2 separate regions of the Homo sapiens genome follow, and region 2 is linked to region 1. A link means that fine-mapping ties the variant in region 1 to the expression of a gene that starts in the linked region. Tissue or cell type: whole blood. Region 1 holds a variant in brackets; the other region holds the start of a gene. All regions are shown on one strand. Distances are from middle to middle.

Region 1 (8,103 bases):
AGACAAGCCTGGGCAACATAGTGAGACTGTGTCTGTCAAAAACAAACAAACAAACAAAAAAGCTGGGCATGGTGGTGCAACACACCTATGGTCCGAGCTAACTAGGAGGCTGAGGTAGGAGGATTGCTTGAGCCGGGGAAGTCAGAGCTGCAGTGAGCCATGAGCACGCCACTGCACTCTAGCCAGGGTGACAGAGTGATATCGTGACTCAAAAAGAAAAAAAAAGACAGAGGGAATACATATCAAATACTTAGCGAGATGCCTGGGCCCAGTAGGTGCTCGATAATTGAGCAGCTGGCATTTTTTTTTCCTCTTATCTCCACTCTCTTCAGAGGTGGGAGGGGCACTGCCTAACATGGCTGAGCTGTTTGGAAGCCAGTCTGAGAGGCAAGGTGGGAAGCATGGGGCTGGCACATAGCCTAGGGCCAAGGGGAGAGGCCCTGGAATGCTTACCTGGCTGTTGAAGCTGCAAAAAAAATTTTTTTTAAATTTGTCCAGGCTGGAGTTTGCAGTGGCGTCATCATGGCTTGCAGCAGGCTCAGTCTCTTGAGCTCAAGCGGGAAGCTGGCTAATTTTTAAAAATTGTTTTGTAAAGATGAGGTCTTGCTATATTGTTGGTCTCAAACTCCTGGCCTCAAGTGATCCTCCCACCTTGGCCTCCCAAAGCACTGGGATTACAGGCACGAGCCACCACTCAGGGCCTGAAATATTTTATTCAGAACTAAGGTGCTAGATCCAGGCTACTGGGCTGGCCAAGCAGGGGAGGAAAGACCTTGCCTCTCTTCAGCAATCCCTCTCCCTATTCTTCAGAAAGACTCCGGACCTAACCATAGGTATGCATGCATTACTCCAGTAATCTAGAGAGGCTCCAAGGTCCCGGGCTTCGGAACAAGCGGGCCACTAATAAATGTATCAGAAATACAGTCACAATTGCCTTGTCCATGAGGTCCCTTCACAGTGGGGTACGGGCGGTGGCTCTGCCTTTGCTAGTGGGATCGTTGAGGGTTTGAGGAGGCCCTGCAAACCCTGCAACGTAACTTTCTTTCTTTTTTTCTGAGATGGAGTCTGGCTCTGTCACCCCAGGCTGCGGTGCAGTGGCGAGATATCAGCTCACTGCAACCTCCACCTCTTGGGTTCAAGAGATTCTTCCTAAGTAGCTGGGGCTACAGGCACGTGCCACCACACCCAGCTAAGTTTTGTATATTTAGTAGGGATGGGGTTTCACCATATTGGCCAGGCTGGTCTCTAATTCCTTACCTCAAGTGATCCACCTGTCTCGGCCTCCCAAAGTGCTGGGATTACAGGCGTGAGCCACTTTGCTTGGCCAACAGTATCTTATTTTATTCTAAGATGGGGTCTTGCTTTGTTGCCCGGGCTGCTCTTGGCTACTCCGAACTCCTGGCCTCAAGGAATCCCACTGCCTTAGCCTCCCAAAGTGCTGGGATTATAGGTGTTAGCCACCGTGTCCAGCCTGGTATCTTTCTTAAATAAGACCCAGCTGGATCCTTGCCTCATGTCTCCCAATATGAAAGTAGTGATGAGAAGATCCCCAATATGGTATTTTCTACCCACCTGAATTTCCTGAGCTTAGATGTTCCAAACAAAGCCAGATAGGAGTCTGGTCTTCCATGGGCAGAGTAAGCTTGCTCTTCTTGAACTGTTCCTTCATGGACAGAAACTATTCTTTTCTAGAGCTCTCGGCTCCGGCTGTACCAGAAAGGTACATTCTCAGCGGCAAAAGCGTCACAGAGAGCAAGCTATAGGCAGCAGTAGCTCGGGCTTCAGTCCAATTCTGCTTCCCCTGCAGAGTGCTCTTAGAGCAGCCACCCACATTGGCAGGGGTTAAGGACGGATATTGGCACTGCCAACACAAGCCTTTCAGGTCTGGCTGGCTTCAGCTGATCTGAAACCTGGAACACAGGCGCTGGGGCCCTCACTTACTGAACCAGCAGGGGAGGCTGCAGGCTCAGCCCCTGGGGATGAAAGTCCTCCCGTCTGTCTCAGTCTGCAAATATCCACACACAGTCTGTTTCTACACTGCCAGTTAGCTCTGGGCCAGAAGCACTGAACCTTGGGCTCTAGTCACTCTGAACCACACTGTTTGCCTTCTAGACAGCCACGTCCAGGAGGCCTCCCCTTAGGTTTGTGTTTAGGCTCCTTTACCAAATTTGCTCCTAATTGTATTTATTCTACGCGTGGCACAAGAGTGGACTCTCGGAGACATCTGTAGTCTTCAACACACTTAGGCAACATGCAGTTCAGCAACATGTAAGTGCCTACTGTGTGTGTGAGGCACTGTCCTCCAGACCCTGGGGACTCATCACAGAACAAAGGAAAATCCCTGTTTCACTTGGGGGGTTGGGTGGCGTGGGTCACATTCATACCAGATACATCAACAGACCCCCTGCATCAAGAGAGCACGCGCCCCTCCCCGGCTGCCATGACCTGCGGTACTCAGGAAGGCAGAATTCTCAGCCCAAGGGAGAAGAAAAGCTCCTTGCAGAGACCCAGGACACTGCTCCTTCATTCCTTTCAGGCGGATGGGTCCCGAGGAAGTCGGGATGGAAAATTCTTTTGGGCTTAGCCTTGCTATCAAATGAAATCCCAAGCTCCTTGCAAACCCTCGCCCACCCACCCCTCCCCCCAAAGATCACTACTGGCACTTGTGGCTATTATTCCCTAATCCGGAACTTCAAGCCCCAGGCAACCCCCTTTGCTATACCCTGCAGGCTGTCTGCTTCCCCTGGCACCTCTGAAAGTTCACATATTACTCCCCCAACCTGCAGTTATTTTACATTTAAGCAATCAATTCATTCCCTCATCGTCTTTTAAGCTTGGTAAGGTCTTTTTCTTTTTTCTCTTTTTTTTGAAACAGAGTCTTGCTCTGTTAGCAATCAAGGCTCACTGCTGCCTCAAATAACTGGGCTCAAGCAATCCTCCCACCTCAGCCTCCAGAGTAGCTGGGACCACAGAGGCACACCACTTATGTCTGGCAAATAATTATTTATTGAGACAGAGTCTCACTGTATCGCCCAGGCTGGAGTGCAGTGGCGCGATCTCGGCTCACTGCAACCTTCGTCTTGAACCTGGGTTCAAGTGATTCTCGTGCCTCAGCCTCCTGAGTAGCTGGGATTCACAGGTGCACGCCACCATGCCCGGCTAATTTTCATATTTTTAATAGAGATGTGGTTTCACCATGTTGGCCAGGATGGCCTCGAACTCCTGACCTCAGGTGATCCACCTGCCT[T/C]GGCCTCCCAAAGTGCTGGGATTACAGGCGTGAGCCACTGCGCCTGGCTAATGGCTAATTTTTTTTTTGTAGAGACAAGGTCTTACTATGTCCCCTAGCTGATCTCAAACTCATAGCTTTAAGTGATCCTCCTGTATTGGCCTCCCAAAGTGCTGGAGTTGCAGGTGTGAGCCGCCCATCCCAGCCTATAAGTCCTTCAAGACGCCAGTTAGCCTTTGTCCAGTCTGCCAGCCTACCTTCCACAAATCTTTCGTAACGCCCTACTATGTGACAGGGACTGCTAGACATCCTGGGCACACAAGACAAGACAAGACAAGACAAGACAGATGCAGTCCTTGACTTCACATGACCTTCAGTCCAGCAAAGGACTCCACAGGAACCTCACACTAACCTCTCCCAAGTACACAGGTATCCCTCCAGCAACTATGGACTAGGCCTACACTTCATTCATCTTCTCTGACTCCATTAGCAGCCCTCAACATCTGCACTACTTGTACGTCACAAAGTGAATTCTTTTGTCCTTTGGTTGGAAGAGACCTTAACAATCACTCAGAGCCACAAGAGAACCTCCTCTAAATACCCCTCAGTGATCCAAGTCTTTCTTGACTACTTCTGGTGGAGAGGACTCAAGGCCCTGGAGTAGTTTTTAAAATCAATCATTACTTAACATTGAAGAAATATATAATTTTTCTTTTCTTTTCTTTTTTTTTTTTAGACAGGGTCTCTCTCTGTCCACCCAGGCTGGTGTGCAGTGGCACAATCACGGCTCACTACAGCCTCGACTTCCTGGGCTTAGGTGATCCTCCCACCTCAGCCTCCCAGATAGCTGGGACCACAGGTGCGAGCCACCACACCTGCTAATTTCAGGGTTTCACCATGTTGGCATGGCTGGTCTTGAACTCTTGGCCTCAAGCAATCTGCTTGCCTCCGCCTCCCAAAGTGCTGGGATGATAGGCATGAGTCACCACGTCCAGCCAATCATTTTTATTGTCTACACTAACAGACTTTTTTCCTGACCATTCTGTATGAGGTGTGTTACTGTGTTGAATCTGTAAGGGGGCATATTTCCTACCAGAAGGCCATTCTATTTTTGGACTTTTCTAATTGCTAGAAATGTTTACACCTTTTAAACCCAGATCTGCCTCCCAATGCTTCTAATTCGGTTCTCTGGGGCCATGTAAAAAAACAAAAAACAAAAGAAAACAAACTCAAATTCTGCTTTTATCTGACTGGCCTCAAATTATGAGGTCTGCTGTGTTATACACCTTCTCTAGGCTAAACAGTCCCACTTCCTTCAACTGTGCCTCACTCCAACTGTCTCCTAAACATCCTGCTTATTCTTTCACTAAGACTTTCACTAAGACTAAAGTGTCTCCCACAGTGAGTGCCCACGTGACCTGGTAGCAGAGCAGAGAGTAGACCATTCCCTCCCATTTCTATCGGGGATACTCAATTTTAATAATAGACTTAACAGCATTACTGTTGTTGTCCCCACCTTGCACTACTGATAAACTGTGAGCTTCTTTTTTCCTTTTCTTGGGGGGCGGGGGACAGGGTCTTGCTCTGTCCCTCAGGCTGGAGTACAGTGACGAGATCATGGTTCACTGCAGCCTTGACTTCTCAGACTCAGGTGATCCTTCCGCCTCAACTTCCTCAGGAGCTGGGACTACAAGCACGTGCCACCACACCTGGCTGTGTGTTCTGTAGAGACGGGGTTTCACCATATTGCCCCAGTTGGTCTTGAACTCCAGTTCAAGTTTAAGGAATCCTCCTGCCTCAGCCCCCCAAAGTGTTCGGACTACAGGTGTGAGCCACTGTGCCCTGCCAATTGTGAGCTTCTAATCAACAAATCCCCAAATTGTTTTCACATATGTTGCTAAATCCTATCTCCCTTTATGGAGTACAAGCCCTCCACCAACTATTCCCTTTCACATCTTTTCCTTCACCAAGGTCTTCTCCCCATGCCTGAAGAAATCCGATTATTTACCATTGTGCTGCATGCTACATGCTAAGTGTGGCTGACTTTTTGGACCAGGGTAGGGTTTTACATTCTTTCTTTTCTGATTTCATCTTGTCATTTACTTCTCCCCATTGCAACCTATTAAGTTCTCTTTGGATCCTAAATTTTTCATCTAAGAATGCATTCCCTTCTCAGGTTTATGTTACATACTTTTTGTTGTTGTTGTTGTTGAGACAGTCTCGGTCTTGTTGCCCAGGCTGGAGTGCAATGGCGTGATCTCGGCTCACTGAAACCTCTGCCTCCTGTGTTCAAGTGATTCTCCTGCCTCAGCCTCCCGAGTAGCTGGGATTACAGGCACCCGCCACCATGTCCAACTAATTTTTGTATTTTTAATAGAGACGGAGCTTCCCCATGTTGGTCAGGCTGGTCTCAAACTCCTGACCTCAGGTGATCCACCCGCCTCAGCCTCCCAAAGGGCTGGAATTACAGGCGTGAGCCACCGTGCCTGGCCATGTTACATGAATTTTATCAGTTGGTTTTATTTACAATTCTTAATATCTTTCTCCCATTAATCTGTCGTGTTTTTTTCTCCTAAGTAAGATTCTTGAGGGGAGGCACTAGTGTGTGTGTTTGTGTGTGTGCTTAAAATAAAATCTATCTGCAGTATTTAACATGCACTATGGATACCTGAACAATGTGGATGAGTGATCGTGGGGGTCAGATGGCAGCCTCAGGACAATCCCAGAGGACATCACGGAGGTGGTGCGGCCATACTGCCTATACTGTGTCAATCATGCTCCCCGAAGCTGTGCAACACAGACACCTGGACACACTCGGAGATGCTACCTTCTGTTTGGGGGGTGCTCCTCATGGGGGTTTGGACTCAATAAGGAATAGGGACTCCTCTTTGACAGGCTGCCTCCAGTTTCTCATGTGAAACCAGATACCAGAAGAAGCCACGCTCTGGGCAGGTCTTAACTCCATGGAGGCTGTTGTACCAGGTCAAGGTAAAATGTACCTCCTAAGAAGTGACATTTAATGATCTTCAAAGCACTGATGTCATGCTTTGAAAAAAAAAAATTACATCCACATCTGAAGAACCCCCACAGCATATTAAAAAATGTAGTATGCAGACATTCTCTGAGATTTGGGCTGAGGTAGAAAGCCATTTTAAGTTGCATTTTCAGGTTCTATGTTTCTGGAGTCCTGAATCACAAACATGACCCATGCCTCATAGTTGGAGACAAGAGAAGCTTTGTTAACGAAAACGAACTAGCCTATCCATAGCTCGGGATAACGTGTAAGTCAGCAAATGGCTGCCATACAGAACCAGCTCAATCAGTGTCAGTTCTCCCTTCTTCACATCTGAACATGAAAAGGCATTTTTTCAAAACCAACTGTATCACAATCACACGCTGAGCTTATTAAAAATGCAGATTCCCGAACTCCACTTTTTTTCTGGAGACTGGGTCTCACTCTGTCGCCCAGGCTGGAGTGCAGTGGTGAGATTTCCGCTCACTGCAACCTCTGCCTTCTGGGCTCAAGTGATCCTTCCATCTCAGCCTCCTGAGTAGCTGGGACTACAGGTGCCTGCCACCATGCCCAGGTAATTTTTATCTTTTTTTTTTTTTTTTTCGAGACAGTGTCTTGCTTTGTTGCCCAGGCTGGCGTGCAGTGGCACAATCTTGGCTCACTGAAATCTCCACCTCCCAGATCTAAGCAATTCTTCTGCCTCAGCCTCCTGGGCAACAGGGATTACAGGCAAGTGCCACCATACCCAGCTAGTTTTTGTATTTTTTGTAGAGATGAGGTTTTGCCATGTTGGCCAGGCTAGTCTCAAACTCCTGGCCTCAAATGACTCGCCCGCCTCGGCCTTCCAAAGTGTTCAAGTACAGGAGTGAGCCACCGTCCCTGGCCTAATCTTTGTATTTTTTTTAGAGATGGGTTTTCACCACATTGGCCAGTCTGGGCTTGAACTCCTGGCCTCAAGTGATCTGCCCTCCTTCACCTACCAAAGTGCTGGGATTATAGGCATAAGCCACTGGTGCCCGACTTTGTTTGTTTTCTTTTTACCTAACACTACTCCTTGGCTATGGATTCCACTTTGAATTCAATGAATTAGTATTTCTTGAGATAGGACCTTAGAATGTGTACTTTTAAACATTTTATTCTATGAGACAGGGTTTTGCTCTCTCACCTAGGCTGGAGTGCTGTGGTGTAAACACGGCTCACTGCAGTCTCAACCTATCGAGTAGCTGGGAATACAGGCGCACACCATCACATCCAGCTAATTTTTAAAAAATGTTTTGTAGAGATGGGGTCTCGCGATATTGAACAGGCTGGTCTTGAACTCCCAGGCTCAAGAGATCCCCCTGCTTCAGCTTCCCAAAGTGCTAGGATTACAGGTGTGAGCCACAGCACCTGGCCAGAATGTATTGCACAGGCTGGTCTTGAACTCCTAGGCTCAAGAGATCCCCCTGCTTCAGCCTCCCAAAGTGCTGGGATTACAGGTGTGGGCCACAGCACCTGGCCAGAATGTGTGTAAGTGTTCCAGGTACTTATGAACACTGAGTTTTAGAATTACTGCTTTAAAGGATGGAAGGTTAGGTCAAAGTGGTCACAATTTTACTAGACTCTTCAAAATGCAACTCTATTTTTCAAAGGTGCAAACACTACTACTATCTATATATTTTTTGAGACAGGGTCTTGCTCTGTCACCCAGGCTGGAGTACAGTGGCGTGATCAAAGCTCACTGCAACCTTGAACTCCTGGACTCAAGTAATCCTCCTGCCTCAGCCTCCCAAGTGGCTGGGACGACAGTCATGCATCACCATGCCCAGCTAATTTTTGAATTTTTATTTTTGTAGAGATGGGGCCTCGCTATGCTGCCAGGACT
Region 2 (8,103 bases), 210 kb after region 1:
ATCTTTGCGCGGCCTGGCCTCCTTTAATTCCTTCATGTTTTCTGTTATGTCGGGGAAAGAGTTTGGGAGGGAAAGGTAGAAGATAAGAATAAAGAAGGAAGATAGGGGAAAGACTGTCATTCTGGTTAAGTAACAAAAAAAGTCGAGCAAGAATTACATATCCAAATGCTAATACTGGTAGGCAAAGAAGGACATTTCTGTAGAAGCAGAAATTCTGGGTTTACAACACTTGTTCAACAATTCACAAGGCTAAGGACCTAACTGTGTTGGGGCTACCTACACTTGGGTAAGTGAAATGGGGGAAACCCATCTCCTTATGTGTCATCCAAGTCATATTCAGAAATCCAAGATCCCAAACTACCTCATTATTGTCAGAACAAAAGACCTCTCTAACCTTTTCAGCACTACACTGTTCTCTATCTATAGAGCCTGTGAATCCACCTCAGCCTTTTCTTCCGCCTCTAACTTTTTCCTGGGTGGCTAAGTTCTTTTAACATAACAGCAGGAGGAAGAAGTAAAAAAGGAGAAAAAGGAGGGAGGGTATTATAACAATTATCAGTCCTGGACATCTCTGGAGAAAAAAAATGCAACTTTAGTCTTTAAACTTGACCAGGATGATTCTCTTCTTCAAGATACCAATTACCAAATAACATACCTGCTGGTGAATTAAACAGCAAGCAGTTCTTTTCCCATTCTTCAACTTCACCCATCCTCACCAACTCACTAACAGTAGCTCACAGAGTTACCAAAATACTGCTCAGACTATCATACTAGAATACTGACACTAACTGCTACTGTGATGATGGAATTATTAGAAAAAAGTTCCATAAGGGAACTTTCCCTGGATGCTGATGGAAAGATTGTGACATACTCTCAAAATGCCAACAACTGGGAACTCAAGAATTAAGAATAATACAGGACTTTAGAAACCACTCTCGGCCGGGCGCGGTGGGTCACGCCTGTAATCCCAGCACTTTGGGAGGCCGTGGTGGGTGGATCACGAGGTCAGGAGATCGAGACCATCCTGGCTAACACGGTGAAACCCCGTCTCAACAAAAAATACAAAAAATTAGCCGGGCGTGGTGGTGGGCGCCTGTAGTCCCAGCTACTCGGGAAGCTGAGGCAGGAGAATAGCGTGAACCCAGGAGGCGGAGCTTGCAGTACGCGGAGATCGCGCCAGTGCACTCCAGCCCAGCGGACAGATACTTACTTAAGTATCTGGTTTTTTAAAAAAGTATCTGTTACCGTTATCAAAAGTAACCACTAAACATTACAATGGAAAAGTGACAGAATTCGGGAGAATATTATCAAGTACACAAATGGAATGCTATATAAAATCCTAGCATAGGCCAGGTGCAGTAGCTCACGCCTATAATCCCAGCACTTTGGGAGGCTGAGGCGGGAGGACTGCTTGAGGCCAGGAGTTCGAGATCAGCCTGGGCAACATGGCAACACCCTGTCTCTATAACGTATACAAAAAATAGCCAGGTGTGGTGGTGCAGGTCTGTAATTCCAGCTACTCGGAAGGCTGAGGTGGGAGGATCACTTGAGCACAGGAGGGGGAGGCTACAGTGAGCTGAGATCCCTCCACTGCACTCCAGCCTGGAAGACAGAGTGAGACCCTGCCTCAAAAAAATTGGCCGGGCACGGTGGCTCACGCCTGTAATCCCAGCACTTTGGGAGGCCAAGGCGGGCGGATCACGAGGACAGGAGTCCAGACCATCCTGGCCAACACGGAGAAACCCCGTCACTACAAAAATACAAAAAATTAGCCAGGCGTGGTGGCACACGCCTACAGTCCAAGCTACTGGGGAGGCTGAGGTAGGAGAATGGCGTGAACCCGGGAGGCGGAGGTTGCAGTGAGCAGAGATCGCGCCACTGCACTCCAGCCTGGGCGACAGAGCTAGACTCCGTCTCAAAAAATAATAATAACAACAATAAAAAAGTTTTTAATCCTAGTATTGCTCTCTAAATATAAATGGAAACAAGCCCAAAACAGGAATCATATGCTCCAGCAAGTACATTTACTGTTTGTAGGTGTAAGGAAAAGGGGAAGAAAAGAGACTGAGGTTTTGGATAGTGCTTCACTATTTTCATAAGTTTAAAAGGTAGGTTCATGAAGTATCCACAAAGATAAAGCAGTTTAACCCAAGAATAGCTCACCCTCGGCAGTCTGTAACTTGGTGGGGGGCGGGGGGATGGGGAAAGCTATTCCTACTACTTTCTAGAGCAGCGGGAGAAAATAGCCTTAATAATCCAATTATGTTAATCAACAAAAACCAATTTCACAGACTGGCCGCAAACCTAGAGAAGGCACCTATCACAGCTACCATTCTACACAACTCTATTGCCTAACGCAGGAGAGGTGAGACACTTAGAATCTTTCTTACTTTCCTGACGTGGCTGGAGACTTGAAATTAACTTGCAAATTGAGCATTCTCTCTAATAAAAACTGCTCCCACACATGCCAGGGCCAAACCCGAGTAGTCTGAGGTCCCGGATCCCTCCAGTGGCGCAGCTTTCGGAAGCCTGTCTTGGGGGGGAAAAGTTCAGCAACGAAGTCGCAGGCTCTTAAACCTTTCTCCCCAATTCCTTCTCTCCGACGTTAAAGCGGTGGCCGGGGCAGGCCCGCGGAGGGCGGCCTGGAGAGCGATACGCCCGGGGCCTCCACCAGACCCCACTCCTTTCCGCGTCTCCCGATGCCTGGGAATCCGGGGCGGGTCTGAGAGGGCTGGGGCAAAAGGAACAGTCACCTTCGCGGCGAGAAAGAGGGTGGAGGCAGGAATTCGGGCCAGGCTCTCCCGGAGCTGGCCAGGACTGGCCGAGCCCGACCCCGCACTAACCCGCGAGAGAGGTAGGGCAGCGAGGGTCCGCCGCGGCCCCAGCGCCTACTGCTGGGGGAAGGGGCGGGGGCTCCGGAGCCGAGGGCCGAGCGGGGAGGAGGCAGAGGAGGAGGAGAGGGAGGCGGGGCGGGCAGGCCCGGCCCAGGAGCTGGGCGGCGCGACTCACCTCTGCTCCCGGCCTGCGGGGCCAGAGTAGCCAGGATCCCGCGCAGCTCCGACGCGGAGATCCGCACACGCTCCAGCCCTTCCGCCATCTTCGCGGCTGCTGCTACAGCCGTAGCGGCTCCGCCACCGCCGCGCGCAGCCAGGAAACCACCACAGACGGGCGGCGCGCGCGCTCGCCCACCTCCCGGCCTTTCCCCGCCCCCTGCCGCCCTCCCTTTCCGAACGACGGTGGCCGCGCTGGGAGGAAAAGCGCCCGCCGCCGGTTCCAGAGGGGCGGGACCGGAGCGAGAGCCTGGGTGGGGCGGGCGGGCGCTGCGCGTGCGCAGAGGTGCGGCCGGGGAGGCGCGCGGAGGCTGGAGCTGGAGGCGCGGCGCCGGTGAGCTGAGGTGAGGCGAGGCCGGGCCGTGCCAGGCCAGGCGGGCGTTTGCGGCGGTGGCTGCCGTTGCTGTTGTCGTGGACACCAAGGACACTGCTAGTCTGGGACTCGGGTTGACAGAGACACCCCTCAGCCTGGGCTCCTCTGGACACCTTAGGCCAGGCTCTCCCGCCACAGGCCCGGCCTAGCGCCGCGGGCCATTACTTGGGACCTTGAAGATCTGCTAAGAGTAGTTGTTACTATTCCCTTTTTTTTTTAGTTGGAGTCTCGCTCTGTTGGAGACTCCCGGGCTGGAGTGCAGTGGCGCGGTCTCGGCTCACTGCAACCTCTGCCTCCTGGATTCAAGCGATTCTCCTGCCTCAGCCTCCCTAGTAGCTGGGATTACAGGTGCACGCCACCAAGCCCGGCTAATTTTTGTATTTTTTGTAGAGACGGGGTTTCACTAGGCTGGTCTCGAACTCCTGACCTCAGGTGATCCACCCGCGTCGGCCTCCCAAAGTGCTGGGATTACAGGCGTGAGCCACCGCGCCCGGCCGCCCCCTGACTTTTAAAAACTAGATACGATATAGTTGGAATCGTGTGGAAGGAAGTACATCAGGAGGCATATAAGTCCATTTGGGACCTGTAATCCCGGCGACTCGGAACGCTGAGACGGGCGGATCGCTTGAACCCGGGAGGCGGAGACTGCAGTGAGCCGAGATCGCGCCACTGCACTCCAGCCCGGGAGTCTCCAACAGAGCGAGACTCCGCCTCAAAAAAAAAAAAAAGTCAATTTGGGAATTTCTGTGTCACTATGGATTCTTGAAAAAAATTACTGCTGTGGATCTCAGGTTGACTTTTTAATTTCCCATCTTTAAAATTGAACTATACCAGAAGGCTGGTACTTGAATCTTTTTTTGGAGAACTGTACAGAGGTGAAGCTCCCTTCCCCAAGGCCTCCTGCCTCCACCTGTTGCCCCTCCACAGCCCCATAGGCTTTTACCCCACACCCATCACAGAATAGTTACCAATTATTCCTTAGTCTGAGCCGAAGGGATTGCCACAACCTCTGACAGAACTCCTTCAGTTCCTTTTACGTGACACTTTGTCACCGGAAGGTTAAGCATAAGAAGAAAGTCAGTAGATGATGGGTGAAAAGATCCAACAGTTCAGAAGAGGAACCATTTGAGTGGTCAGAGCAGAAGACAGCCTTTGCCACCAGATTTGAGAGAAATAGGAAGAAGCGTTAAAAAATAATCTGTTTCATATTGAAATTTGAGAGGCCATTGCATGATTTCTTTTTTCAGCTGGAAAAATAATGGAAAACAAGAAAACTTTCTTAGGACAAATGGCACCACCCATTTAATGCAACAGTGTCAGTGAACTGCAGATTAGATATGCCAAAAGTTAAACCAGTTCAAGAAAATTTACCAGAACTCAGAAGGAAAAGGTAATAGATAAAAACTGAGAGACAAAGATAGGAGACATGGAGAAGGGGTACAAAAAATTAATAATTAAATACGAGTTCCAGAAGGGGATAATACAGCTGACTGCAGAAGAGCAATAATCAAATAGTAGAAGAAAATTTACTACGTTGGTGGAAATTTTTGAATTATCAGATTTAAAGAATTCATGAAATACCAGGTAAAAAGAAATGACAAGAAAGACAACCATATTTAAGTCAGTATCACAATGAAAGCTGCTGAGATTTTTTGTTTTTCGTTTTTTTTGAGACGGAGTTTCACTCTTGTTGCCCAGGCTGGAGTGCAGTGGCACAATCTTGGCTCACTGCAACCTGCCTCCTGGTTTCAAGCAATTCTCTTGCCTCAGCCTCCTGAGTAGCTGGTATTACAGGCGCCCACCACCATGCCCAGCTAATTTTTTGTATTTTTAGTAGAGATGGGGTTTCACCATGTTGACCAGTCTGGTCTCGAACTCCTGACCTCAGGTGATCCACCCGCCTCAACCTCCTAAAGTGCTGGGATTACAGGCGTGAGCCACCGCGCCCAGCCTTGAATTCAGTTTCTAAAAGTAAAAATTGTACAAGTTGGCCGGGCGCGGTGGCTCACGCCTGTAATCCCAGCACTTTGGGAGGCCGAGGTGGGCAGATTGCCTGAGCTCAGGAGTTCCCAACCAGCTTGGGCAAGATGAAACCCCATCTCTACTAAAATACAAAAAAATTAGCTGGGTGTGGTGGCGGGCACCTGTAGTCCCAGCTACTTGGGACGCTCAGGCAGGAGAACTGCTTGAACCTGGGAGGCAGAGGTTGCAGCGAGCCGAGATTGCTCCACTGCACTCCAGCCTGGGCGACAGAGTGAGACTCCGTCAAAAAAAAAAATTGTACAGGTCATATTTACTTAGCACAAAGTAATAAAACTAGAAGTGAATAGCCACAAATGAAGCAAAACATTCTAACCATTTGGAATTTTTTTAAAAACAACAATTTTAGGCCAGGCCCCGTGGCTCATGCCTGTAATCCCAGCACTTTGGGAGGCCAAGGTGGGCAGATCACTTGAGGTCAGGAGTTCGAGACCAGCCTGGCCAACATGGCGAAACCCCGTCTCTACTAAAAATACAAAAACTAGCCGGGCGTGGTGGTGGGTGCCTGTAATCCCAGCTACTTGGGAGACTGAGGCAGGAGAATCACTTGAACCAAGGAGGTAGAGGCTGCAGTGAGCCGAGATCACGCCACTGCACTCCAGCCTGGGTGACAGATAGAGACTCTGTCTCAAAAATAAAACAAAACAAACACTTTCCACCCATGGACACCGCCAAGTCTAAGTCAGAGTCTCCTAAAGAGCTCGTACAGCTGAAGAAGCTCTTCATTGGAGGGCTGAGCTTTGAAACAACCAATGAGAGCCTGAGGAGCCATTCTGAGCAATGGGGAACACTCGCGGACTGTGTGGTAATGAGAGATCCAAACACCAAGCACTCCAGGGGCTTTGGATTTGCCACATATGCCACTGAGGAGGAGGTGGATGCAGCCACGAATGCAAGGCCACACAAGGTGGATGGAAGAGTTGTGGAACCAAAGAGAGCTGTCTCAAGAGAAGATTCTCAAAGACCAGATGCCCACTTAACTATGGAAAAGATATTTGTTGGTGGCATTAACGAAGACACTGAAGAATATCACCTAAGTGATTATTTTGAACAGTATGGAAAAACTGAAGTGATTGAAATCATGACTGACCAAGGCAGTGGCAAGAAAAGGGGCTTTGCCTTTGTAACCTTTGATGATCATGACTCCGTGGATAAGACTGTCATTCAGAAATACCATACTGTGAATGGCCACAACTGTGAAATTAGGAAAGGCCTGTCAAAGCAAGAGATGGTGAGTGCTTCATCCAGCCAAAGAGGTCAAAGTACTTCTGGAAACTTTGGTGGTGGTCGTGGAGGTGGTTTCGGTAGGAATGACAACTTTGGTTGTGAAGGAAATTTCAGTGGTCATGGTGGCTTTGGTGGCAGCTGTGGTGGTGGTGGATATCGTGCAGTGGGGATGGCTATAATGGATTTGGTAATGATGGAAGCAATTTTGGAGGTGGAAGCTACAATGATTTTGGCAATTACAACAATTAGTCTTCAATTTTTGGACCCATGAAGGGAGGAAACTTTGGAGGCAGAAGCTCTGGCCCCTATGGTGGTGCAGGCCAATACTTTACCAAACCACGAAACCAAGGTGGCTATGGCGGTTCCAGTAGCAGCAGTAGCTATGGCAGTGGCGGAAGATTTTAATTAGGCAACAAAGCTTAGCATGAGAGGAGAGCCAGCGAAGTGACAGGGAAGCTACAGGTTACAACAGATTTGTGAACTAAGCCAAGCACAGTGGTGGCAGGGCCTAGCTGCTACAAAGAAGATATGTTTTAGACAAATACTCATGTGTATGGGCAAAAAACTCGAAGACTGTATTTGTGACTAGTTGTATAACAGGTTGTTTTAGTTTCTGTTCTGTGGAAAGTGTAAAGCATTCCAACAAAGGGTTTTAATGTATTTTTTTTTTTTGCACCCAAGCTGTTGATTGCTAAATGTAATAGTCTGATCGTGACACTGAATAAATGTCTTTTTAAAAAAAAAAAACAACAAAAAAACCACCAATTTTAAATAATTCATGGGTCAAAAAAGAAAACAAGACTAAAATCTTGGATTATTTAGAAATTATAATAATGAAAATATTGCATAATGGAATCCATGATATTAAAGCACTTCTCAGAGGAAAAATCCTATAAGTAACCTTATATGCTTTCTTTTTAAAGTGAAAATTAGTAAGCTAAGCATTCAACAAATATAGAAGACAATTAAAGGAAAATGGCAGAGTAAACAATCAGAAATAAGGGAAAAAGAGCTGTACTTTAAATAGATTGAAAAGCTCATTCTTCAGAAATAAAGCAGATACTAATATACACACATTTCTGGCAAAAAATAATTTTTAAAAAAGGGACATCCTCTTGGATGTTTCATAAACAATTCAAACTTAGCTAATCAAATCTGATTTTCCTGTCAAATACTTATTTCTTCTCCTGTTTTAAATCTCAACAAATTGTACCACCATTTAAGTCAAAACCCAGGAGTTACTCTTTTTAAAGAAAAATTTTTGGCTGGGCACGGTGGCTCACACCTGTAATCCCAGTACTTTGGGAGGCCGAGGTGGGTGGATCACAAGGTCAAGAGATCAAGACTATCCTGGCCAATTAGCTGGGCATGGTGGCACGCTCCTGTAATCTCAGCTACTTGGGAGGCTGAGGT

Evidence for each region. PIP is the estimated chance that this variant, and not a neighbour inherited with it, causes the effect.
Region 2: SMG6 starts here. The variant in region 1 is fine-mapped to the expression of SMG6 in whole blood (TOPMed, PIP above 0.99).

What each region holds. Positions count from the first base shown.
Region 1 is chr17:2,093,213-2,101,315 of GRCh38, forward strand. The region is part of intron 13 of SMG6 (SMG6 nonsense mediated mRNA decay factor); the gene reads right to left. It overlaps SMG6-AS1 (SMG6 antisense RNA 1), which reads left to right. Exons shown (of 2, transcript NR_199038.1): 2 at 7,910-8,103. Among named protein-coding and RNA genes, the nearest start is that of SMG6-AS1, 7.5 kb to the left of the region's middle. The variant T/C (reference allele first, on the strand shown) is at 3,248.
Region 2 is chr17:2,300,624-2,308,726 of GRCh38, forward strand. It overlaps SMG6 (SMG6 nonsense mediated mRNA decay factor), which reads right to left and starts at 3,162. Exons shown (of 19, transcript NM_017575.5): 1 at 3,010-3,162; 2 at 1-41. The coding sequence starts at 3,097. It overlaps SRR (serine racemase), which reads left to right and starts at 3,327. Exons shown (of 8, transcript NM_021947.3): 1 at 3,327-3,394. It also overlaps the pseudogene HNRNPA1P16. RefSeq lists enhancers at 1,420-2,234, 2,564-3,290 and silencers at 2,792-3,001, 3,192-3,411.